Regions from separate parts of the Homo sapiens genome. Here region 1 is linked to region 2. The links come from fine-mapping of genetic effects on gene expression. A gene starts in region 2. The other region holds a variant in brackets. All regions are shown on one strand. Distances are from middle to middle. Region 1 overlaps NSD2 (nuclear receptor binding SET domain protein 2). Region 2 holds the start of NELFA (negative elongation factor complex member A).

Region 1 (11,881 bases), 24 kb after region 2:
CTGTTCTGCAAATGCTCCTGGGTGTTCTGCTGGAGCCGTGGGGAGTCAGTCTCGAGGACCTCAGGGGACAGCCGAAGCTCCCATGACCTAACCCTAACTGAGGAGGGTGTGGGGCTGGGCAGCCGCCAGCTCCTCTCAGCCGGGAGGTCTGCGGCCTGGGCGCCCCTAACTTCATGTGGTTCTTACCGGCAGTGGGTGAGTGTGAAGCGTCTGCCATGCTGCCACTGGAGTGCCAGTACTTGAACAAAAACGCCCTGACGACCCTCGCGGGACCCCTCACTCCCCCGGTGAAGCATTTTCAGTTAAAGCGGAAACCCAAGAGCGCCACGCTGCGGGCGGAGCTGCTGCAGAAGTGTGAGTGGCCGCGGCCGCCATCGGGCATTGTCTTTGTAGTTTCCAGTCATAGGTTTCTTAGGTTCTAAGGTACCAAGACTGCCCCTTCAAGGTGGCGTTCTGGGCCAGGCATGGTGGCTCACACCTGTTGGGAGGCTGGGGCAGGTGGGTCGTTTGAGCCCAGGAGTTTGAGACCAGCCAAGAAACCCCATCTCTACCAAAAGTACCAAAACATTAGCCGGGCATGGTGGTGCGTGCCTGTGCTCCCAGCTACTCGGAAGGCTGAGGTAGGAGGATCACCTGAGCCCACGAGGTTGAGGCTGCAGTGAGCTGTGATCACACCACTACACTCCAGCCTGGGAGAGAGTGAGACCCTGTCTCAAGAAAAAGAAGATAAAGTTCTGCATAAAGTTTTTTGTTAGAAGTTTATCACTATATTAAACTTTATGTTCTGAAAACATGCTTTAAAAACTTCAGAATTTAGGCTGGGCATGGTGGCTCACACCTGTAAACCCAGCACTTTGGGAGGCTGAGGCCAGCAGATCACCTGAGGTCAGGAGATCGAGACCAGCCTGGCCCACATGGTGAAACCCCGTCTCTACTAAAAATACAAAAATTAGCTGGCTGTGGTGGTGCATGCCTGTAATCCCAGTTGCTTGGGAGGCTGAGGCAAGAGAATCACTTGAACCTGGGAGGCGGAGGTTGCAGTGAGCCAAGATTGCCCCACTGCACTCCAGCCTGGGCAACAAGAGCGAAACAACATCTCAAAAAAAAAAAAAAAACCCACCAACTTCAGAATTTTAGGTGAAGGCATCTCTAATCTCTGTGACCAAATGAACTCTGTGCCAGCTGAGTCACGCTGTTGGGCACGGTGGGTGCCAGGGTGAATGGCTGGAGGGGCACGTTCCTTACTCTCACGTTGCTGCCTTCTGGAGTGGCGGGTGATCTCAATTCCACTTGAAAGATATTTAATCATTTCAGTTAACGTTTTCCCAAAGCACGACAAAGATTTCAATAACATCGTTTTATTTTGAATGGTTATGGAATTAATATTTATAATGTACATCAATACCCCGTTTCCAGAGAATCCAAATAAAAGGCTGACAGCAGCTGTGCATGGATCTTGGCTGGAACGGGCAGCAGCCAGGGCCCAGCGCTGTCCGGGAGGCTCCGTGCAGCCCCGGGCCCACTGGGTAGCCCAGGAAGGACTCTGCTGGCCCCTTGGGCCCCACCCCCTTTGGAGGCCAGCAGTGGCCACAGGGTCTGCTTTGGGCACTCGGTGTCCCCTGACCCTTCAGCCACACTGAACCAAGTCAGGAATATCTCTTCGTTTGTTTCTTCCTCATATTTTTGTATCTAGACCGTGCCTGCTGACCCTCAGCGAGGACGGTGCTACCACTGGGCCAGGGGGAGGCCCGGGTCGATGGAGAGGGCTCATGAGGTCCCTCAGCTCCTCCTCGGCTGCCTCCCCCCTGCCATGGGGTCCTGGGAGGTGCAGCCACAGCCACCCAGCTCCCGAAACTTGCTCACCTGAGTGAGTTTCTGACTCGTTGTAAAGTGCGAGCTGGTGTCAGGCCCGGCTCGGAACAGCTGCTCATTTAGAGAGAATGCAGCGTTCACGGCTCAGGCCGTCGGATGAATCCACTTGACAGAGATGTTTTTACAAGGGCCAAGGGCTCTCGCTCTGAGGATCCCTGACATATGTGACCTCTTCCTTCCAGCCACGGAGACCGCCCAGCAGTTGAAGCGGAGCGCCGGGGTGCCCTTCCACGCCAAGGGCCGGGGGCTGCTGCGGAAGATGGACACCACCAGTAAGGCCCCCACCCTGGTGCCGTGAGCCTTGCTTTTGGGGCAGAGCTAAGGGCTTCACCTGGAGACCCGCTCCCTGTTGGGGAGGTGGTGCCTGTGAATGGTCTTCAGGCAGCAGTGTTGGGAGCCCGTGGGAAAGCGAAGGCACTGGGGCAATTTCACCGGCTTCTCCCCTTGGGGAGCTCCCTGGGAGGATGTGTGGGCACGGAGACAGGAGGGCCGGGATCTGAGGACAGTGCTGGGCACGGAGACAGGAAGGCCGGGATCTGAGGACACCGCTGGGCATGGAGACAGGAAGGCCGGGATCTGAGGACAGTGCTGGCCCCTGCTCCTCTGCTGTTGGCACCGGTGGCTCTCGGCCTTCCCAGCTCGGGCTTTCGGCCCCAAGTGCTGCTCTTGGGTTCCGAGTGTCCCTGGGCGGCTCCGCGGGGAGGACGTGACCGTGCTCAGCTGCCCGTGGGGCTGTGCCCCCCGCACCCCTCCATCTGCCCTTCCTGATTTGTGCTCTCAGGGCTGGGCGTGAGCTTAAGCAGGATGCACCCTGATCACAGGAAGACGGCGTGCCCCTGGGAACCATGGCAGGGCATACTCACCCCAGAGGGTGCTGGATAGTGACCTGGGGGCCAGAGGGCAGGACGGGTGTCGTCCTGTGCTGAGACAGCTGGGTAAACTTGCAGATGGGTGGGGCTGAAAGGGCAGCCTTACAGGCGCTCTCCATGCAGCTCCCAGACCAGCCTGGCTTAGTTTATTTGGGCTCCCATAATCCCACAGTGTTCACATGGGACCTAGTAGAAGGCATCTTGGGTCTGCTGACTATTGTCGCTGTGTGGGGGGCCGTCCCTGGGTCATGTTCCTGCCCACCGCAGCCGAGGTTCCACCTTGCTCTCCTCTACCCCGCCTGGAGCAGACCCTTGTCTTTCCACCCCCACCAGGCATCCCAGGGCCAGGGCTGCACCTGCTGGCCCAGGGAGGGTGGGCCAGCCGTTGAGCAGTGTGTCCAGCCTGGCCCGGTGTGCTGATGGCACCATCCCCCGGGCGTCCTCTCTCCGGGCCTGGCACCATGAGAGCCACGCACGCCTTGGAGGGTGCGTGTGGGCGCTGGTGGGTAACAGCGTAGGTAGGCCTCAGGAGTGTCCTCAGGGGACGGGGAGAAGGCTTGGGAGGGCGGCCCTCAAGCCCAGGCGCCTGGCTTCATGCCCCTGCCGGTGGAGGCACAGGAAGGAGGCAGAGCTCAGCCCCCGCCACACTGGTGAGAGACTCCACCTGGTGAGATCCTGTGGCTGGGCTGGGGTGCCGCTGTCTTTGTTTGGTGTCTTGGCAAAGTGTGAGGTCGTGGCTCCAGGCGTTCCCCTGCTCCTTGAGGTCCGGGATCCTGGGGGTCCTGCCCGCTGCCCGCCAGGGGTTTGGCCCTTCCCCTCTGCGGCGCTAGCCTAGAAGAGGGTGGGACGTTCTGAGCTCGGGGTGGGGGACGTTTGCCGGTCACTGCTGCTGGCGCCCTGACTGTTGCCGTCCTCCAGCCCCACTCAAAGGCATCCCGAAGCAGGCGCCCTTCAGAAGCCCCACGGCGCCCAGCGTCTTCAGCCCCACAGGGAACCGGACCCCCATCCCGCCTTCCAGGACGCTGCTGCGGAAGGAACGAGGTGTGAAGGTAGGCCCGTCCCCCAGCTCCTGTGGCACCCCGGGGCCCGTTGCGCCCTGGTGCCGTCACTAAGGCAGGGCTGTGCTTGTCTTGGCAGCTGCTGGACATCTCTGAGCTGGATATGGTTGGCGCTGGCCGAGAGGCGAAGCGGAGAAGGAAGACTCTCGGTGGGGGTTGGGGCCTGCGTGTCGGCGGCAATGGGGGTCCCTGCGGGCCCTGCCCAGTTGGGGTGGGTTGTGCCCACGCTCGGCGGGCAGGGCTGTGCCCCGTGAGGCTGCTCTCCGTGGGTGGGTGCCTGCTTTTCTCCTCGCTCCTTGGTGGCCTCCCCTGGGAAGCTGTTTGATTCCCTGCCGCTGCCCTGAGCTGACACTGCAGACGCGCCCGGGCACTGGCGAGGACTCCTGTTTTGTCCACAGATGCGGAGGTGGTGGAGAAGCCGGCCAAGGAGGAAACGGTGGTGGAGAACGCCACCCCGGACTACGCAGCCGGCCTGGTGTCCACGCAGGTAGGGCTCGGGGCTGCACCCCATGTCTGGCACCACTGCGGGTGCCCCTTTTGTTCCGATTGTGGCCACTAGTGTGCTCTGTCGGAGAATATATATATGTATGTACATATGTGTGCAGTCTGTATTTATGTATATATACGTATATGTACATGAGAGGCAGTGTGGGCCGTGCCCTGACATGGGCATCTGACTCAGGCTTGGAGCGGGAACCTGCCCCACGCTTGCTGGAGGGGCTGCCAGGGGAGTCCTCCTCAACCCTGTGCCTCAGTGTCCCGTCAGGCAGGGCTGGTGGGACCTAAGCCTTGCACGTGGCCGTGAATGGGTGCAGGACAGGCCTGTGGGGGTGCTGGGTGGTCAGAGGCCTCAGTGTCCCGGAGACCAGGCCCTGCCTGCGGGTGGGAGGCAGCCACGGGGCGCGGCAGGTGCACAGAGGCTGCAGTGGGTCGTCTGAGGCCAGGGCCTGGAGGAGGCCACACTGTGGGGTCACTTCAGGATAATAAGCTCCTTTCTTCCCGCCGCTGCGTGTTCTGTGTTTCTTAACATGAGCATCTTCCTTTATATCAACGCTTCGTGGTAAGAAAAAGCATCGCTCCTTCTGTGCTCAAGATGGGCTGTTTGGGCTCCTCAACCCCTCCCCTCTCCTACACAGGAGCGGCTCAGTCCCCAACTCTGCTGGGGCGCCAGGGGCCAGGGGTCCCGTTGTCTAGCCCAGGGAGCTCGGGAGAGTGGCCCCCGCCTTCCTGCTCTAGCTCGGGGGGCCACAGCCTGTGGCAGTGGAGCTCCGGGTCGGGCCATGTGTTAGCACATGCCGGAAGCATGGCCTCTTCTGGAAGGAACCTTAAACTCTGTGTTCCAGAAACTTGGGTCCCTGAACAATGAGCCTGCGCTGCCCTCCACGAGCTACCTTCCCTCCACGCCCAGCGTGGTTCCCGCCTCCTCCTACATCCCCAGCTCCGAGACGCCCCCAGGTGAGTCTGCTGGCCCCAGCCTGGAACCAGCCAAGCTGCCTGCCAGGACATGACCTTGCCCACGGGCGCTGCCAGGGCTGCGGTTCTCACTCCTGCATCTCTGTTGTCCCCCTTCTGCCTCAGCCAGAATCTGCTGGGGGCAGATGCCCCGCTGTTCAGCTTGAGCTCCAAGACATAAACCAGCTGCTTTGCCCCACCCTGCCCGTCCTGGGCACAGACAGGCAGCGGCCCCAGGGGACACGGCAGGAAGGGGATTGGGTTCGAAAGGGTTTTCTGCCAGGTGACCCAGCTCTTGTTGCTGGGTAGGCGGGAGGGGAGCTGAGAGCCATCCCCTCCCAGACGGAGGGCACTGCCAGGCTCACAGCACCTCAGGCCAGGTCCTGGGCCCAAGGGGCTTGAGGATACAGCCTTCCTGTCTTCCCAGCAGTGCCTACGGTATGGGGACCTGCTGCAGGCCAGCAGCTGGCCAGAGTCCAGACATCTTATCTGCGAGTCTGGAAAGGCCTGAGACCACTGGCCTTGTTCCTCTGGCTGGGGCTTCTGGGGCCTGTGCCTTGGCTGGGGGCCACAGGGAGTTCTTGTCAGAGGGTAGCAGGACAGAGAAGGGGAGCTGAGCCTGTCACCTCCAGGAGCACTAGGGTTTGGGAACAGGGTGGGGGTCCAGCCCCCTCACCAGGCCCCGGTCTACTTGCAGCCCCATCTTCCCGGGAAGCCAGCCGCCCACCAGAGGAGCCCAGCGCCCCGAGCCCCACGTTGCCAGCGCAGTTCAAGCAGCGGGCGCCCATGTACAACAGCGGCCTGAGCCCTGCCACACCCACGCCTGCGGCGCCCACCTCGCCTCTGACACCCACCACACCTCCGGCTGTCGCCCCTACCACTCAGACACCCCCGGTTGCCATGGTGGCCCCGCAGACCCAGGCCCCTGCTCAGCAGCAGCCTAAGAAGAACCTGTCCCTCACGGTAGGTGTACACTGGTAGGGCCCACAGGCCACCAGGTAGGTGGTACGGCCCTGGCCACCTCCCCTAGCGTGGGGGTGCCACGGTGCCTGCAGGGGGATGCAGGAGGTGGTCCTGGCGGGGCCCTGGCACCCACACCCCTCTCCCCGCTGTAGAGAGAGCAGATGTTCGCTGCCCAGGAGATGTTCAAGACGGCCAACAAAGTCACGCGGCCCGAGAAGGCCCTCATCCTGGGCTTCATGGCCGGCTCCCGAGGTATGTTCATAAGGCAGGGCCTGGGGGTGCACCGGGCCGGGTTGGGGGCGGGTGCCCCCAGACACCCACCCAGCAGCTCCTGCTCTCTGCAGAGAACCCGTGCCAGGAGCAGGGGGACGTGATCCAGATCAAGCTGAGCGAGCACACGGAGGACCTGCCCAAGGCGGACGGCCAGGGTAGCACAACCATGCTGGTGGACACAGTGTTTGAGATGAACTATGCCACGGGCCAGTGGACGCGCTTCAAGAAGTACAAGCCCATGACCAATGTGTCCTAGAACCACCTGCCTCACAGCTGGCCGTCACTTGTGGGGGTCCACGGGACGATGGCTTTGCCAGCTTAAAGTAACCGGATGGCGGACACCTGGCCCCCGAGGTCCCCCGGCCGCCGCCCTGCTGCTGACCCAGCCTGTTTTAAGTTCTGGATGCATTTCTCTGGGGTATTTGGGGCTTATTTTTAAAATTTTAATATGGGTTCTTTTTTGTGTGATTTAAGACACTTTTTGGACTCAACGTTACATTTTTGAATGTAGTAAGTAAATTAACCAAAAAAGTTACAACTTCCTAATTTTAGTGACAGCTCTGCCTGTT[A/TGTTA]GACTCTTACTTTTTAAAATCTTTTCTATTTTCCCTCGCTGGGGCAGTGCCCTCCTACCCCCAGGGTTGAGGGGACCAAGGTGGCACGGTGGTACTGGGGGTGCGGCAGGGACACCCGACCACACCAGAGCGTGGGAGACGGTGGGCCTTGTCCCCTGCCTGTGCCTGCCTGGGAGTTTTGTATTCATCTTTTGTATAGTTGTGGACATTTAAGACAGTCTTTGGGTACCTATTTTCATTGTAAAACTATCTGAACCATTAAAGTCGAGCTTTTCTAAAGAAAGCCACCATAGCTGTGTTTGGGGCCAGCTTGTCCTCCCTGCTCCGGGGACCCAGTCCCTCCCTAGGCGGCCATCAGGACGGGGTGGGCCAGGGCTGGGGGCTTCCTAGGACACCCTGGCCCACAGGGTGGGGAACAGGTAGGATCAGCCCTCGGGGTACTCCCTTGACTTACTTGGCTGTGGGCCTGGGGACCACCCGGCTCAGCCGACTGCAGGGCTGGGGGACAGCAGTGCTTCCTTCTCTCTAGACCATTTCACCCTTAATGGGAATTTGGGAAGCAAATTATTTCTGAAAGAAGAAGAAAGCATTTTTCCAAAGTCAGTCAGTTATGCCTGCTATTTCCAGTATTTGTTGTTATACTTCCCAAGGTGGCACTGCCTCTCCCCAGCGGGTCAGGTCAAAGGCAAAATGACACAGTCAGGACAGGGAGCCCCACCCATCGGAGGCATCAGTGCCACACCCGATGCTTTGCAATTCAAAGTAACTGGAAAAAAAATCAAACAATCCCATATAAAATAAGTTAAGAAAAAAGCCTTTAAAATGTTTTTAATACAAAAATACTCATACACAATTTTCCAAACACAGCTTTCCATTTTAAATGCTATTTTCCCCCAACTGGCAAGTCTCAACTCTCTATTTCAGTATATCCCTCCCCCCAAAAAGTGAATTTCAAGTTTTTAAGTCTAACTATCAAACCTGGTGACAGCACCCAGTATTCCTAAAAGGAATCTGACCTTACATTGTATGAAGTTTAGACACCAATAGGCACATTTAAGTTTGTATTTAATTTCTGACGGGGCATTTCACACCTCAACAGGGTATGGTGAGGCTGTGACACCCCGTGGACACAGCATTTTACTCTACTGACTAACAAACAGTCATCAACTACACTCATAGGATCAAGATATTTGGCAACTGACAGTCATTTGCATTAACTTGAATTATAAAACAGGTTTAATTCTGGAAAATAAGGTAGTCCTGGAAGATGGGCACTGCACACGCCGGGGTTTAGATGTCAAGACAGACAAACACTGCGAAGGGGACCCAGCCAGCCATGGACGGGTGTCGCCGGAAGAAAGGCCGGCCTGAGGACGGACAGCTGGGTTCTCACTTCAGGTGCCTGAAGAGTTTCCCCCACAGGTGACCACATTTTAAGCTGCCCATTCGGACACATCCCCCTGTGGGCGCACACGGGTGGGTATGGGTTTAGGTGCAGATGCTGGTTTCGGATGCCAAGGAATCCTGAGGGATTGGGGCGGTTTTTGTGTTTTGCTTCACATTAATGATGGAGGATTGAAGCTGATGTTCAGGAAGTCACCACGTCCTCAGAACAAAGCTGGGCAGGGCCGAGAGCCAGCCACACCCACGGTCACAGCTGGGGGCGTGGTCAGCCCCAGTGGCGAGAAACCCTGCAAGCTCAGGGCCGCTACCCCAAAGCCTGGCTCCACTGAGTTATCAACGGGTATTGTAGAGACATTCAAAGTTAGTGTTACTTGCTCATTAGTTTAACAGTTTTTGGAAAGGGGGAGAAACATATTTAAAATGTTTGCATTATTTCCTTCAGAAAAATCATAAAATTTGGAAGTATTATCAAAGCGATTAAAAATCACAAGATTTCACTACTGTCCAACACAAAAATAAGTTAATATCTGCTCCCCAAAGTGCACTGCAAAGCCGATTCTGCTGTTTTGACGTAAGCATTGGTAGTCCCTTACCTGCCGGAAGGGATCTTTTGGGCAAGTGACAGCGGGGCCCTGGGGCCTTCGACTCTAAGGTGTGTGTGGGGACACTGCCCGGCCTGTCCCTAGAACAACCTTCCAAGTTAGGGCATCATAAGGAGCATAAATCTATGAGCCGATCCAGTATTTTCTTAGGACACTTTGGGAGAAGTTAGAGTCTGAACTGGAAAGCACTACTCCCACCCTGTCTTAACCGGCGAGTGCCCCTCAGAGGCCACGGCCGCGCGAGCAAGTCAGTGGCTACACAGCTCGTTTCCCCTGGGTCCTCTGTGTAGTTAACTTTGCTGGGGACCCTGATGGGAGAAGGGACAGCCACCAGCCAGTGAAACTTCCAGTCAGTGCTCAGGGAGGCGTGGGACCCTGCAGGGCCACACACCCCTGAACCCCACGCTTACAGGTCACAAAACCACGGAGTAGCCACTCTCAGGTCCAAAGACACTGCAGTTTTTACCAAGGCATAAAAGATGCCACAGAAAATTTAACAGGAGCCTCAGCAGCAGTTTTCAAGGGGAGTTCTGTAAACTTCTCTGCAAGATGGATGTGTCCCCCTTAGGTTATTTTAAGAAAAGGCCATAAAAAAGCACCTGCTGCTGAATGTTCTCTCCCTCCCTCCCAGACAAGCAGCCCCTCAGGACACGTGGGCAAAGGCACACATGGTGCCCCCTTCTCAGGGTGCTCCAGACTTCCCAGGGTCAAGGATCCCTCAAAAAAAGAACCAAGTCTTAAAACATATGTAGTACTCAGATAGATAGGTCTCACTCTGTAGAACTGGACCTTTTAAAAACTAAAGTGAAATCTCACAGGAGAGTGGGTGTCATACCTGGCCTAGACCAGTGCCCATAACACACGTACGAGGCACGCACACCTGCCAGGCAGGCCTCCACCCCCAGGACCGCACCTCTCAGTAGGTGCCCTGGCAGAGGGCACATGTGATCAGCAGAGACTGCATCTTCCATCACCAGACCCACAGAGTGCTGAGATGGAAGCCACTCTGGGTGGCAGGAGAGCTAGACTCCGTCTCTCTTTAGACCCACGTGCTGGGGTCCCCGGGGCCTGCAGCGCCCTACGGGGCTCCCTAAGTTGTCACTTCCTGTGCTCTAAGCAGACTGCGGTCTCACGCCCTGCAAAGTCACTCCTTTCGCCATGGAGCTCAGGGCCGCATCAGTAAACACACACTTCAGTCGGTGGTGATTTGTGAAATAGGTTTAGCAAAAATATATTGAGAATAAAAATCAGAAACTGGTAAAGAAAAGCCAAATGAAAAAAATATACAAAGTTATCCCCCAAATGTTGATAAGAACCTAGCGAGTTCAGAAGATAGGCCCAGGTGAGAAGTAGGCCCAACCCGGCCAGGCCTCGAAAGTGCTCCGCGTAAACTACACGTTGAAAGTGGACGTGTTATTGGCATTTCATTCAAATCCATGAGGAGAAAAAACTACGGGAGGAAATCTTACAACACCATTGCTGCCACCACCTGCAGGGCCAGCTTCTCACTAGGATGGAAAAGAAGCGTTTCTGAGGAACAATTCACATTAGTACAAAAAAATGATACAGCCATTTCCAAAGAGCAGAGTAATGATCACAATGGCAGTTTCGAGGAATCCAGGGTCAGTCCTCACACGGGCCTCACCCAGCCTCTCCCGAGTGGCGACGGCGCTGAGAGCCAGAAAGGGGGCAACGCGAAGACGAGTTTCTAGCGACCCTTGGGAAAAGCCTACGCTACACATTTCAGAGGAGATTAAAACATTCCATATGCCAATTAACTTTAACCTAAAAAAATAGAGTGGGAGGGAACCTTGACATTCGGAGAAATTCAAGTGTGGCGGTAACGCTGAGGAGTGAGGCTGTTTGTCCAGGAACGCTGAGCTGGGCTCAGACGGTCATCAGTGCAGACGCAGCGGACGCTGCTGAGGATGGCTCAGTGGTGGGGAGGCGCTCCCTCCCGAGGAGGCCTGTACGTCTGTGTCCTGGCGGCTCGAGCTGGGTCCTCCGGGCCAGTTCATGCTCGCCCTCTCCCGCAGGCAGGGCCGGCCGCCCTGCACCGCCCCTGGATCCGGCCAAGCGGCCGCCTGGCGCTATTTGCCCTCTGTGACTCTCCGCCAGCCCCTCCGCCGCCGCCTCTTCCCCTTCGGCTTCCCTGGCTCTGGGGGGGGCTTCTCAGTCTTGGTGCTTCTGACCGATGCCGCCCCTAAGTCATGCTCACAGCAGTAGGACCGCCCGTCCGGGGTGCAGCTGAAGGCTGTCCCGTCCTGGTGCTCCTTACAGAACGAATTGGGGCAGAGGTGGCAAAATGAAGTCGAAGGTTTGCCACACACGTCACAATGATGCCAAGGACATTCCCACTTCCCTGCAACAGAACACAAGATGTGAGCACACAGAAGTGATGGAATCACGACTTCAACATTATCGTGGTTGAAGATGACTTACAACTGTCAGGTCAAATGAACACAAAATAGTGCTGGCTCCAGCGAACAGGACGGGCAGACAAACTGTCTACCACAGCCCGGGCGGGCTCCCTGGCAGGGCCTGTTGACTCCACAGTACCTGCCAGGCCCCTAAGGACCACCTGTTAGCGTCTCTTTATGTTTCGGCAACTGAGAGGAGCTGTGCCGGGTGCAGGAGTGTCCCCCAGCGCGGCGTGGACAGGCAGGGGCTGCTGTGCTGATTTCCATGTGACCTGCCCTCTCCCAAGGGACTGATTTTCAACTTGGGTATTCATCTTTCTGGCATGACTCTGTAAAAGCTCTGTCACGTTAGGGACCACCCTCTCGCACCCATGGCCAACACTTTTCTCTATCGTGTGT
Region 2 (11,940 bases):
TTGCTTGAGGCCAAGAGTTTGAGACGTCATCTCTACATAGTGAGACTTCATCTCTACAAAAATTTCAAAAGCTAGCTGGGCATGGTGGCACGCGCCTGTAGTCTCAGCTATGAGGCTGCAGTGAGCCAAGATTGTACGGCTGCACTCCAGCCTAGGCAAGAGTGAGACGCTATCTCTAAAAAAAATAAGTAAGAAAGAACTGGCCAGGCGTGGTGGCTCATTCCTATAATCTCAGCACTTTGGGAGGCCAAGGCGGGGAGATCACTCAAGGCCAGGAGTTGGAGACCAGCCTGGCCAACATGGCAAAACCCCATCTCTACTAAACAAACAAACAAACCACAAAAATAGGCTGGGTGTGGTGGCTCACACCTGGATCCCAACAGTTTGGGAGGCCGAGGTGGGCGGATCTGAGATCAGGAGTTCGAGACCAGCCTGGCCAACATGGTGAAATCCCGTCTCTACCGAAAATACAAAAATTAGCCAGGCTTGGTGTTGCATGCCTGTAATCCCAGCTACTCAGGAGGCTGAGCGATGAGAATCACTTGAACCCGGGAGGCGGAGGCTACTAGGGAAGGTGAGAGGCAGGAGAATTGCTTGACCCCGGGAGGCGGAGGTTGCAGCGAGCCGAGATCGCGCCACTGCACCCCAGCCTCACCAACAGAGCGAGACTCTATATCAAAAAAGAGAAAAACACAAAAATTAGCTGGGCATGGTAGCATATGCCTGTAGTCCCAGCTACTTGAAAGGCTGAGGCATGAGAATCGCTTGAGCTTGGGAGGCGGAGGCTGCAGTGAGCTGAGATCGCACCACTGCATTCCAGCCTGGGCAACAGAGTAAGACCCTCTCTTAAAAAAAAAAAAAACTGTATGGAGAAAAATAGTAACGTCTACTGAAGATCATAAAGAAAGAAAAATGAAAGCTTGTCTGTGTATCATATACTATATAAAGATGTCAGTTCTCTCTAAATTAATCTACAAACCCAATGGAAAGCCAATCAAAATACCACTAGGGTTTTTTTTTAGAAATTCAGTAAAGTTGTAAAATTTATTGCTTTAAAGTAAAAATAAGGACTTTTTTTTTCCCTTTGGTCGCCCAGGCTGGAGTGCAATGGCACGATCTCAACTCACTGCAACCTTCGCCTCCCGGGTTCAAGCAATTCCCCTGCCTCAGCCTCCCAAGTAGCTGGGATTACAGGCGCCTGCCACCACGTCCAGCTAATTTTTGTATTTTTAGTAGAGACGGGGTTTTACCATGTTGGCCAGGCTGGTCTCGATTTTGAGATGGAGTTTCCCTCTTGTTGCCCAGGCTGGAGTGCAATGGCACGATCTCCGCTAACTACAACCTCCGCCTCCTGGTTTCAAGCGATTCTCCTGCCTCAGCCTCCTGGGTAGCTGGAATTACAAGCGCCTGCCACCACGCCCAGCTAATTTTTTGTATTTTTAGTAGAGATGGGGTTTCACCATGTTGGCCAGGCTGGTCTCGAACTCCTGACCTCAGGTGACCCGCCTGCCTCAGCCTCTCAAAGTGCTGGGATTATAGATGTGAGCCACCATGCCCAGCCAAAATAAGGACTCTTTATGTTGCAGAGTCAGGCAAATAAATTAGAAAAAAAGATAAAACTGCCTTCACAAATGGCATGATTGTCTTTGCAGAAAACTAATACAATGTATGAAAAAACTACTGGAACAAATAAATGCGTTTAGCCAGGCTGCAGGATACAAAATCAACACACAAAAATCTGTTGTATTTCTATATACTGGCGACAAACACTGATAAATTAAAAATTTTAAACAACACCCTTTACAACCACATCAAGGTTATGCAATACTTGGAGGCAATTCTGAAAAGATGTGCAAGACCCTTACATTGAACACTACAAAATGGGGCTGAGAAAATTTATTTTTTAATTTATTTTTAATTTTTTAGAGACAGAGTCCCACCATGTGGCTCAGGCTGGTCTTGAACTCCTGAGCTCAAGTGATCCTCCCACCTCAACCTCCTAAGTAGCTGGGACTACAGGCGCACCACCAGCCCAGCTTTTTATATTTGTTGTAGAGATGGGGTTTCGCCACGTTACTGAGGCTGGTTTCCAACTCCTGGGCTCAAGCAATCCACCCTCCTCGGCCTCCCAAAGTGCTGGGATTACATAGCCATGAGCCTAGCTGAGAGAATTTAAAGACCCAAATAAACAGAGAGAAATACTATGTTCACTAGACAGAAGTTACCAGTTCTCCCTCAACTGACCTACAGATTCAACACAATTCCACTCAAAATGCCAGAAGCCTTTTTTTTTTTTTGTAGAAATTGACAAACGATTCTAAAATTTATATGGAAATGCAGGCTGGGCACTGTGGCTCACCTGTAATCCCAGCACTTTGGAAGGCTGAGGTGGGTGGATCACTTGCGGTCAGGAGTTCTAGACCAGCCTGGCCAACAGGGTGAAACCCCGTCTCTACTGAAAATACAAAAATTAGCCAGGTTTGGTGGTGCATGCCTGTATTCCCAGCTACTTGCAAGGCTGAGCCATGAGAATTACTTGAACGCAGGAGGTAGAGGCTGAAGCAAGCTGAGATTGCATCACTGCACTCCAGCTTGGGCAACAGAGCCAGACCTTGCCTCAAAAAAAAAAAAAAAAAAAAAAAAAAAAAAGGAAATACAGAGGACCTAAAATAACCCAAATAACTTTAAAAAAAAAAAAGTCAGAGAATTAACACTACCTGATTTCAACACTTATTTTAGAAAGCTATAGTAACCAAGACAGTCTGGTATTGGCATAAAGATAGATGAGTAAGTCAGGATAGAAAAGTCCAGAAAGGATCGTCATTTCGACAAATAATATGGGAACAACTGGATACCATGTTTTAAAATGAAAAAAACTTTGGCTTTCTAATTTTGCAATCTGATAGGTGTAATGAGGCATCTTGTTATTTTAATTTGGGTTTGTCAGGTTGCTGATGAATTTAAGCATCTCTCCATGTGCTTCTCCGGTATTTGGGTTTCTCCTACGAATTGCTTTTTTTTTTTTTTTTTTTTTTGAGACAGAGTCTCGCTCTGTGGCCCACGCCTGAGTTCAGTGGTGTGATTTCCGCTCCCTCCAACCTCTGCCTCCTGGGTTCAAGCGATTCTCCTGCCTCAGCCTCCTGAGTAGCTGGGATGACAGGCATGAACCACCACGCCCCACTGTTTTCGTATTTTTAGTAGAAACGGGGTTTCACTATGATGGCCAGGCTGTGAATTGCCTATTCTTATCTTCTGCACATTTGTCTATTGTCGGTCTTTTTCTCGTCGATTTACAAGCATTCCTTTTTTCATTCTGAATATTAATCCATTGCTTTCTGATGCTGTAACTAAGTCCTCCTAGTGGTTTGTCTTCTTGGTTAAGCCAGATGTTAACTTGGATTTTTCCTGCATAAAACTGAAGACTCAAGATGCATCAAGCACTGTATACAGAAAAGTGCTGCGTATCCTACAGAAAGCTACAGACAGTTGGGGGTCAGAATCATTCGGATTGTTTCAAGTTTGGGGCTATTATAAATAAAGCTGCTATAAACGTTTGCACACAGGTTTCTGTGAACAAAAATTTTCATTTCAACCAACTAATGTTTACGGTTCAATCATGATTTCACAACTTGAAGTAACTTTCACTCTTCTCATACTAAATTTGATATGTCGTCCACTGTTAAACTATTTCTTACCCTCAGATTATAATTATTAAACTTTTTTTTTTTTTTTTGAGAGGGAGTTTTGCTCTTGTGGCCCAGGCTGGAGTGCAATGGCAAAATCTCGGCTCACCGCAGACTCCGCCTCCCGGGTTCAAGCCATTCTCCTGCCTCAGCCTCCCGAGTAGCTGGGCTTACAGGCAAGCCATGCGCCACCAAGCCCGGCTAGTTTTGTATTTTTAGTAGAGACGAGGTTTCTCCATGCTGGCCAGGCTGGTCTCGAACTCCCGACCTCAGGTGATCCGCCCGCCTTGGCCTCCCAAAGTGCTGGGATTACAGGCGTGAGCCACCGTGACCGGCCTAATCATTAAACTTCTTTCAGCACTAGCCCCACTGATGTCACAACTTCACCCATTAGTCAATAACTTGTCTTTGCTGAATTCGACACTTTTGAATCATTTAAAAAATATTCTCTTAAATTTTATGTGCTATTTGCAATGTAACGGTTGTCGACATGACAGTTTTAAGTTTAATCTTTATCATCAACATTTTCTCTATCACTTTCTTCAGTTTAAGCAATCAACAAAACCACCGCTCCAGCACTGATTTGTAGCATTTGCGGGTTTCCCCCGTGTGACTTCCGCAGGACTGCCAAGTTCAAGCCGCCAGGGCCAGGGCACTGCTAGCAGCTGGGCTGAGCCCTGTTCTCCCGGCGTTCCCACCGCCCAGTGGCAATAGCTGTGAACGGCGGCAGGAGCATGGCAGTGGAACAATAAGGAAAAGATCTTTTAAAAAAAAGATATAATACAGAAGCCAAGCAAGGCGGCCCCGACCTGTAACCCCAGCACTCTGGGAGGCAGAGGCGGGCGGGCGGATCGCTTGAGCCCAGGAGTTTGAGACCAGCCTGGCCAACATAGGAAGGCCTCGTCAAAAAGACAAAAGGGTAAAACGAATTTAATAAAATGAAGTTTAACTTTTACTCATGTTTGTATCTAATGACAAGCTTTTAAAACTGAAAAGTTCACTACTGGCTCCTGCCTGGCGGCTCCAGCCCGACTGGGGGCCGGGGCCTCCCTGCACTGTGGGGTCACGAGTGCCCCTGGACAGCTCCCGAGCGCCCTCCGACCCGCATGCTCAGCGCAGCCCCGTCGGCGGCGCGCCACGGGCAGAGCGGGCTCAGCGGGGGACGGAAGCTCAGCGCTGCGACCGGGATCCCGCAGGCTCGCTCCGCAGGGCCGCGGCTCCTCTCCGTGCAGGTGCTGGGCCCGCGGGGGCGGGGCGTCCACACGGTCCGCGCCGAGACCCAAGCGGGGAAAAAGCGAAGAGCGGACAGCGGGGCAGGTGCCACAGGGAGCCTCCGCCCCACCGCGCGAGCAGCAAGTCTGCGGCGCTTGACACCTGCACTGCGAATGCCAGGCCGCAGCCCGGGCTCCCAAGACGCGAATACGCGCGCCTGCTCGTGACGTCATTTTTTGCGGTCTTCCCGAGAGCCAGCAGAGGGCGCCGCCATGATGTTTTACGGAAGCCGATAGTCCTTGCTCAGCGGCACCCCGTCCTTCCGGCTCTCGGCTTTGCCACAAAGCTTCCCGAAGACGCGGCCGCTACCCGGAGACGCGGTCGCCACCCAGAAGCGCTCTCCCGGGAAGCCCCGCTCGTGGGACCGCGCCACCTGCGCCGCCTCTGCGGCCCGCAGCCCGACGGGCGCCGCCATGTTGGGGTCCTAGCGAGGGACGCGTAGGTGTCTTCATAAGATGCCGGGGCAGCGGCGCGCGCTTTCCCCCAAGATGGCGTCCATGCGGGAGAGCGACACGGGCCTGTGGCTGCACAACAAGCTGGGGGCCACGGACGAGCTGTGGGCGCCGCCCAGCATCGCGTCCCTGCTCACGGCCGCGGTCATCGACAACATCCGTCTCTGCTTCCATGGCCTCTCGTCGGCAGTGAAGCTCAAGTTGCTACTCGGGACGCTGCACCTCCCGCGCCGCACGGTGGACGAGGTAAGGCAGGCGTGGCGCCCCGCGGCCCCCAGATTCCCAACCTTCCCACCTCCGACCCGCACACCCAACTCCGGACCCTCCTCGCTCCCTCCCCCAACCTTCCCATCCCCCTTCAGACTGTTAACCCCCCCGGCCCGCCCTCACGCCCCCTCCTCGCTCCTCCGAATACCTCCCTCCAGTCCTCACCTCCCCCTGGGTCCTCATCCCCCGCCTCGATCCTCATCTCCCACCTCGGTTCTCATCCCCACCGTGGGTCTTCAGGACCCCCCGCCCCTCCTCGCCCCCTGGGAATCCCCCACTAGGGTCCTCACCTCCCTACTTTTCGTCCTCACCCCTACCCAAGTTTTCACCTCCCCTGGGATCCTCAATCTCCTCCCCGCCGGGCCCCGGGTTCTCGCTACGACCCCCAGGTCCTCACTCCCCTCCCTGGGCCCCCGGGTACTCATCCCCACCCGCCCCCGCCTCCCCCGCCTTCGGTCCTCACCACCCTAATCCCCCACCGTGCCGAAGCGACCGACTCTTGGAGCGGGGGTGCGCCGGCCCCAGCGGGGTCTCCCATCGGGGTTTCCCGTCGGGGACGCAGCCCTGGTGACCTGGGCGAGGGCGGGGATCCCGAGAGAAACCCCCGCGTGAGGAAGGGGCGGCCTGGGCTCGGTAGCTCCAGTGTCCGCTGACTGGATTTTCTTGTTCTCACCTCGCAAAGACCCCGGCCGTCCGGAGCGCTCTGTGTCCGTTTTACTCTTTTCTACACGCCGTTTTGCGTCATTCCAATAAGTGGGTGTGTGAGGTTTGTTTTCTTTTTTCCTAAACTTTATATTGTATCGCTTTCCGTGCGAAATAAACCGAGTAGTTTTGCAGACTATTGAAGCCCCATGGTTGTTTAAACGTTCCTGGCTACTGATGTATTATTAGCTATTATAGGTTGTAATTGCTTTTGATTGAGATATGACATGTATGGAAAAGTGCATTTTTGTTCAGTTTAACGAATAATAATAGCATCGCGAGCCACTCCTGTGATCCTTACACAGGTGGAGAAGTAGAACCATGCCTGTTCCTTGGAAGCCTCCCACTGGTAATCACGGCCTTCTTCCTTTCCCCTTCCTCATTTTGGAAAGGTAATCATTTCTGTGCCATCTCCCCGGTGTGAGCAATTATTTATGCACCCCTAAATGGCACAGCTTGGTTGCCGGATTTGGAGTTAGTGTGATGGTATCATAGTGTATTTTGTGTGTGGCGTGCATGTGTCTTTTTGGTCGACGCCGTGACAGTTTCATCCACGTTGCAGCTGACTGCAGTTTAATTTTCACTGCTGCGTGGTATTCCTGTCTGTGAGCACGAGGCACTTTATCCATTCTGCCACAGTGACACGCTTAGCTTTTGTGCTCTTGTAAATCATCCCGTTACTACATTACGGTCATATGTTCAGGTGTTTGGAATCTTGGATTTCTCTAGGGTATAACATCTAGGAGTGGAATTGTGAGGATCATAGGATCATGCCAAATTATTTTTCAGAGTGTTTTGTTTTTGTGTTTGTGTTTTGTTTGAGACAGGGTCTGGCGCTGTCAACCAGGCTGGAGTGCAGTGGCACCATCGTGACTCACTGCAGCCTTGACCTCCTCACCTCAGATCTTCCCATCTCAGCCTCCTGAGTAGCTGGGACTACAGGGTTTCACCATGCTGCCCAGGCTGGTCTTGAACTCCTGACCTCAAGCAATCTGCTTGCCTCAGCCTCCTGAAGGGCTGGGATTACAGGTGTGAGCCATGGCACTCGGCCTGCTGTTTGGTTTTCTGCTTTGAGAATTGTATATTCAAATCTGCTTTTAAATTCTCTTTTTTCCCATTGTTTTGTAAGAGTGTCTTTTTTATTATTTATTATAAATGCTAGATATCAGTCCTTTTTCAGTTACAAATATCTCCCAGTTGTCCTTTGACTTTGACTTAGCTTCCTGGAATCCTTTTTTTTTTTTTTTTTTTTTTTTTTGAGACAGCGTCTCACTCTGTCACCCAGGCTAGAGTCTAGTGGTATAATCATAGCTCACTTTAACCTTGAACTCCTGGGCTTAAGCAGTCCTCCCTCCTAAACCTCTGTAGTAGCTGGGACTGATGCGCTGCCACCACGCCTGGCTAATTTTTGTGCATGTGTATGGAGATGGGGGTCTTACTGTATTGCCCAGGCTGGTCTTGAACTCCTAGCCTCAAGTGATCCTCCTGCCTTGGCCTCCCATAGTGTTGGGATTACAGGTGTGATCTGTGCGCCCAGCCCTTTTCCTGGAATCATGGATGAATAGAAGCTCCTAGTTTTAACATAGATGGTGTATTCATCCGCCCACTATCATTGGTGCCTATTGTGTCTCCCCGAGGGACATGCCCGGAACACTCCCTGGGTTATCTTGGCGTAGCTGTACAGTTTTACCTTTCGCACTTGAATCTTCAGTCTGCGTGGAATTGATGATTGTGTGAAGCAGGGAGTCTAATTTTCCACATGGATGTGCAATTAGTCCAGCACCCAACGTTGATTGAAATGACTGTCCTTTTCCATTGATCTGCACTGCAGCTTCTGCTGTGGATGTGTTTCTGGGCTGTGCTCTGTTCTTTTGGTCATTTACATATCGATGTGCTAATAACCCACTAAGTCGGTTCTTGTCACTTTATTTATAAGCCTTGTTAGCGGACGGAGCAAACCCTCCCACTGTATCTTTCTCCGGGATCATCTATGGCTATTCTTGTCCCTTCACACTTCCACATGTATCTTATATACTTACTTCTTAAACACGTAGAGCCTGCCTGCTGGGATTTTAAGGCTGAGCTGAACTTGCAGTTCATTCTGGGGTGCTGTCCTCTTTATATTGCATCCTATAATTTGTGGGTGTGGGCTTATCTATTTAGATGTTCTTTGTGATCTCTGTAGGGGTCTTCCATCTCATATATTACCACCTATTTCATATTTTTCCATGCCGTTGTAAATGGTATCTGTTAAAGTCTTAGTTTTTACTTGTTGCTGGTATATAGAAATGCGTTGATTTTTGTTTTTGTTTGTTTGTTTGTTTGTTTGTTTTTTAGACGGAGATCTCACTCTCTCACCCAGGCTGGAGAGCAGTGGCGCGATCTCAGCTCACTGCAACCTCCTCCTCCTGAGCTCAGGTGATTCTCCTACCTTAGCTTCCCGAGTAACTGGGATTACAGGCATGCACCACCACACCTGGCTAATTTTTGTATTTTTAGTAGAGATGGGGTTTCACCATGTTGGCCAGGCTGCTCTCGAACTCCTGACCTCAGGTGAGCCACTATGCCCAGCCTGATTTTTGGATAATGAATTTGTGACTAGTATCTGTGCTAAAGTTTTGCTAGTTGCAAAATTTTTTTTTTCTATAGAATCTCCTTGATTTTTCTGTGCACTTCATATTATTTTTCTTTCTCCAATTACCTTTTGTTTTTTTTCTCGTCTCACTGGACTGGCTAGGACCCTCCAGCTCATTGTCTTACCTCCGATCACACAGGGAGAACTCGGAATGTTTTGCCAGTGAGCATTATGTTTCCTGTTGTCTTTAATAAATACCCTTTATCTAGTTAAGGAAATTCTCTTCTTAGAAGACTTGTAAAAAAAAATCTTTTAATCATGAATTTTTTTAAAATAGCTTTATTGGCTGGGTGCAGTAGCTCACACCTGTAATCCCAGCACTTTGGGAGGCCGAGGCGGGCGGATCACGAGGCCAGGAGATCGAGACCATCCTGGCTAACATGGTGAAACCCCGTCTCTAAAGAAAAAATACAAAAAAATTAGCCGGGCATGGTGGCAGGCGCCTGTAGTCCCAGCTACTAGGGAGGCTGAAGCAGAAGAATGCCGTGAACCCAGGAGGCAGAGCTTGCAGTGAGCTGAGATCGCGCCACTGCACTCCAGCCTGGGCGACAGCAAGACTCTGTCTCCAAAAAAAAAAAAAAAGCTTTATTAAAATATAATGTATAGCTGGGTGCAGTAGCTCATGCCTGTAATCTCAGCACTTTGGGAGGCCAAGATGGGCGGATTGCTTGAACCCAGGCATTCGAGATCAGCCTGAGCAATATGGTGAAACCCTGTCTCCATAAAAAATATAAAAATTAGCCAGGGGTGGCGGCACATGGCTGTGGTCCCAGCTACTTGGGAGGCTGTGGCGAGAGGATCACTTGAGCCTGGGAGGTTGAGGATGCGGCGAGCCATGATTGCATCACTGCACTCTAGCCTGGCCGACAGAATGAGACCCTGTCTCAAAAGAAAAAAGATATTATTTTATGTACCATATAATTATGCCAGGTAGTTCACCATTTAAAATGTACACTTCAGTAGTTTTTAGTATATTTACAGGTTTGATGGTCATGCTAGTCAATTTTCAAACATTTTCATCATCCCCCAAATAAATCCTACACTCATTAGCATTTGCCCAGTCCTCTTCCTCCCCACTCCTAGGTGACTAGTAATCTACTTTTTGCTTCTATAGATTTGTCTATTCAGGATATTTTATATAAATAGAATCATACATCTGGTCTTTTGTGCCTGACTTCTTTCACTTAATGTAATGTTTTCTTTTTTCTTCTTCTTCTTTTTTTTTCTTTTTTTTGAAACAGAGTCTTGCCCTGTCGCCAGGCTGGAGTGCAGTGGCGCGATCTCGGCTCACCACAACCTGCGCCTCCCAGGTTCAAGGGATTCTCCTGCCTCAGCCTCCCGAGTAGCTGGGACTAGAGACACGCGCCACCATGCCCAGCTAATTAGCTAATTTTTGTATTTTTAGTGGAGACGGGGTTTCACCGTGTTGGCCAGGATGGTCTCCATCTCTTGACCTTGTGATCCACCTGCCTTGGCCTCCCAAAGTGCTGGGATTACAGGCATGAGCCACTGCTCCCGGCCTTTATTTCTTCTTTAAAAAAAAAAAAAAAAAAAGGATGCATATGCAGAACATGCAGATTTGTTACATAGGTATACGTGTGCCATGGTTTGCTGCACCTATTGACCCGTCCTTTAAGTTCCCTCCCCTCACTCCCACCCCTATTAGGCCCTGGTGTGTGTTGTTCCCCTCTCTGTGTGCATGTGTTCTCAGTGTTCAACTACCTGCCACTTATGAGTGAGAACATGCAATGTTTGGTTTTCTGTTCCTTTGTTAGTTTGCTGAGGATGATGGCTTCCAGCTTCATCCATGTCCCTGCAAAGGACAGGATCTCATTCCTTTTTATGGCTGCGTAGTATTCCATGGTGTATATGTATCACATTTTCTTTATCCAGTCCATCATTGATGGGCATTTGGGTTGGTTCCATGTCCTTGCTATTCTAAGCAGTGCTGCAGTAAACATACCTGTACGTGTGTCTTTATAGCAGAATGATTTATATTCCTTTGGGTATATATCCAGTAACAGGATTGCTGGGTCAAATGGTATTTCTGGTGTTAGATCCTTGAGGAATCGCCATGCTGTCTTCCACAATGGTTGAACTAATTTACACTCCCAGCAAAAGTGTAAAAGCCTTCCTATTTCTCCACAGCCTCGCTAGCATCTATTGTTTCCTGACTTTTTAGTAATCACCCTTCTGACTGGCGTGAGATGGTATCTCATTGTGGTTTTGATTTGCATTTCTCTGATGATCAGTGACGTAGAGCTTTTCTTCATGTTTATTGGCCTCATAAATGTCTTCTTTTGAGAGGTATCTGTTCACCTCCTTTGCCCACTTTTTGATGGGGTTGTTTTTCTCTTACAAATATGTTTAAGTTCCTTGTAAATGCTGGATATTAGCCCTTTGTCAGATGAGTAGATTGCAAAAATTTTCTCCCATTCTGTAGGTTGCCTCTTCACTCTGATGATAGTTTCTTTTGCTGAGCAGAAGCTCTTTAGTTTAATTAGATCCCATTTGTCAATTTTGGCTTTTGTTGCTATTGCTTTTGGCATTTTTGTCATGAAGTTGTTGGCCGTGACTGTGTCCTGAATGGTATTGCCTAGGTTTTCTTCTAGGATTTTTATGGTTTTGGGTTTTACATTTAAGTTTTTAATGCATCTTGAGTTAATTTTTGTATGAGGTGTAAGGAAGAGGTCCAGTTTCAGTTTTCTACATATGGCTAGCCAGTTTTCCCAGCACCATTTACTGAATAGAAGATCCTTTCCCCATCGCTTGTTTTTGTCAGGTTTGTCAAAGATCAGATGCTGGTAGATGTGTGGTGTTATTTCTGAGGTCCCTGTTCTTCTCCATTGGTCTGTAGGTCTGTTGTGGTACCAGTACCATGCTGTTTTGGTTACTGTAGCCTTGTAAGTGTAGTTTGAAGTCAGGTAGC

What was found. PIP is the estimated chance that this variant, and not a neighbour inherited with it, causes the effect.
Region 1: its variant is fine-mapped to the expression of NELFA in gastroesophageal junction (GTEx, PIP 0.90).

What each region holds. Positions count from the first base shown.
Region 1 is chr4:1,978,181-1,990,061 of GRCh38, reverse strand. It overlaps NSD2 (nuclear receptor binding SET domain protein 2), which reads right to left. Exons shown (of 22, transcript NM_001042424.3): 22 at 7,870-11,424. The coding sequence ends at 11,153. It overlaps NELFA (negative elongation factor complex member A), which reads left to right. Exons shown (of 11, transcript NM_005663.5): 3 at 193-354; 4 at 2,055-2,144; 5 at 3,660-3,790; 6 at 3,879-3,948; 7 at 4,198-4,286; 8 at 5,143-5,254; 9 at 5,949-6,214; 10 at 6,367-6,466; 11 at 6,559-7,339. The coding sequence ends at 6,743. It overlaps MIR943 (microRNA 943), which reads left to right and starts at 3,585; the gene lies at 3,585-3,678. The variant A/TGTTA (reference allele first, on the strand shown) is at 7,057.
Region 2 is chr4:2,002,463-2,014,402 of GRCh38, reverse strand. It overlaps NELFA (negative elongation factor complex member A), which reads left to right and starts at 5,429. Exons shown (of 11, transcript NM_005663.5): 1 at 5,429-5,653. The coding sequence starts at 5,444. LOC124900839 reads left to right here. Exons shown (of 4, transcript XM_047416543.1): 4 at 4,230-5,397. The coding sequence starts at 4,642. The coding sequence ends at 5,397. RefSeq lists a silencer at 4,679-5,058 and enhancers at 5,119-5,638, 5,246-5,746.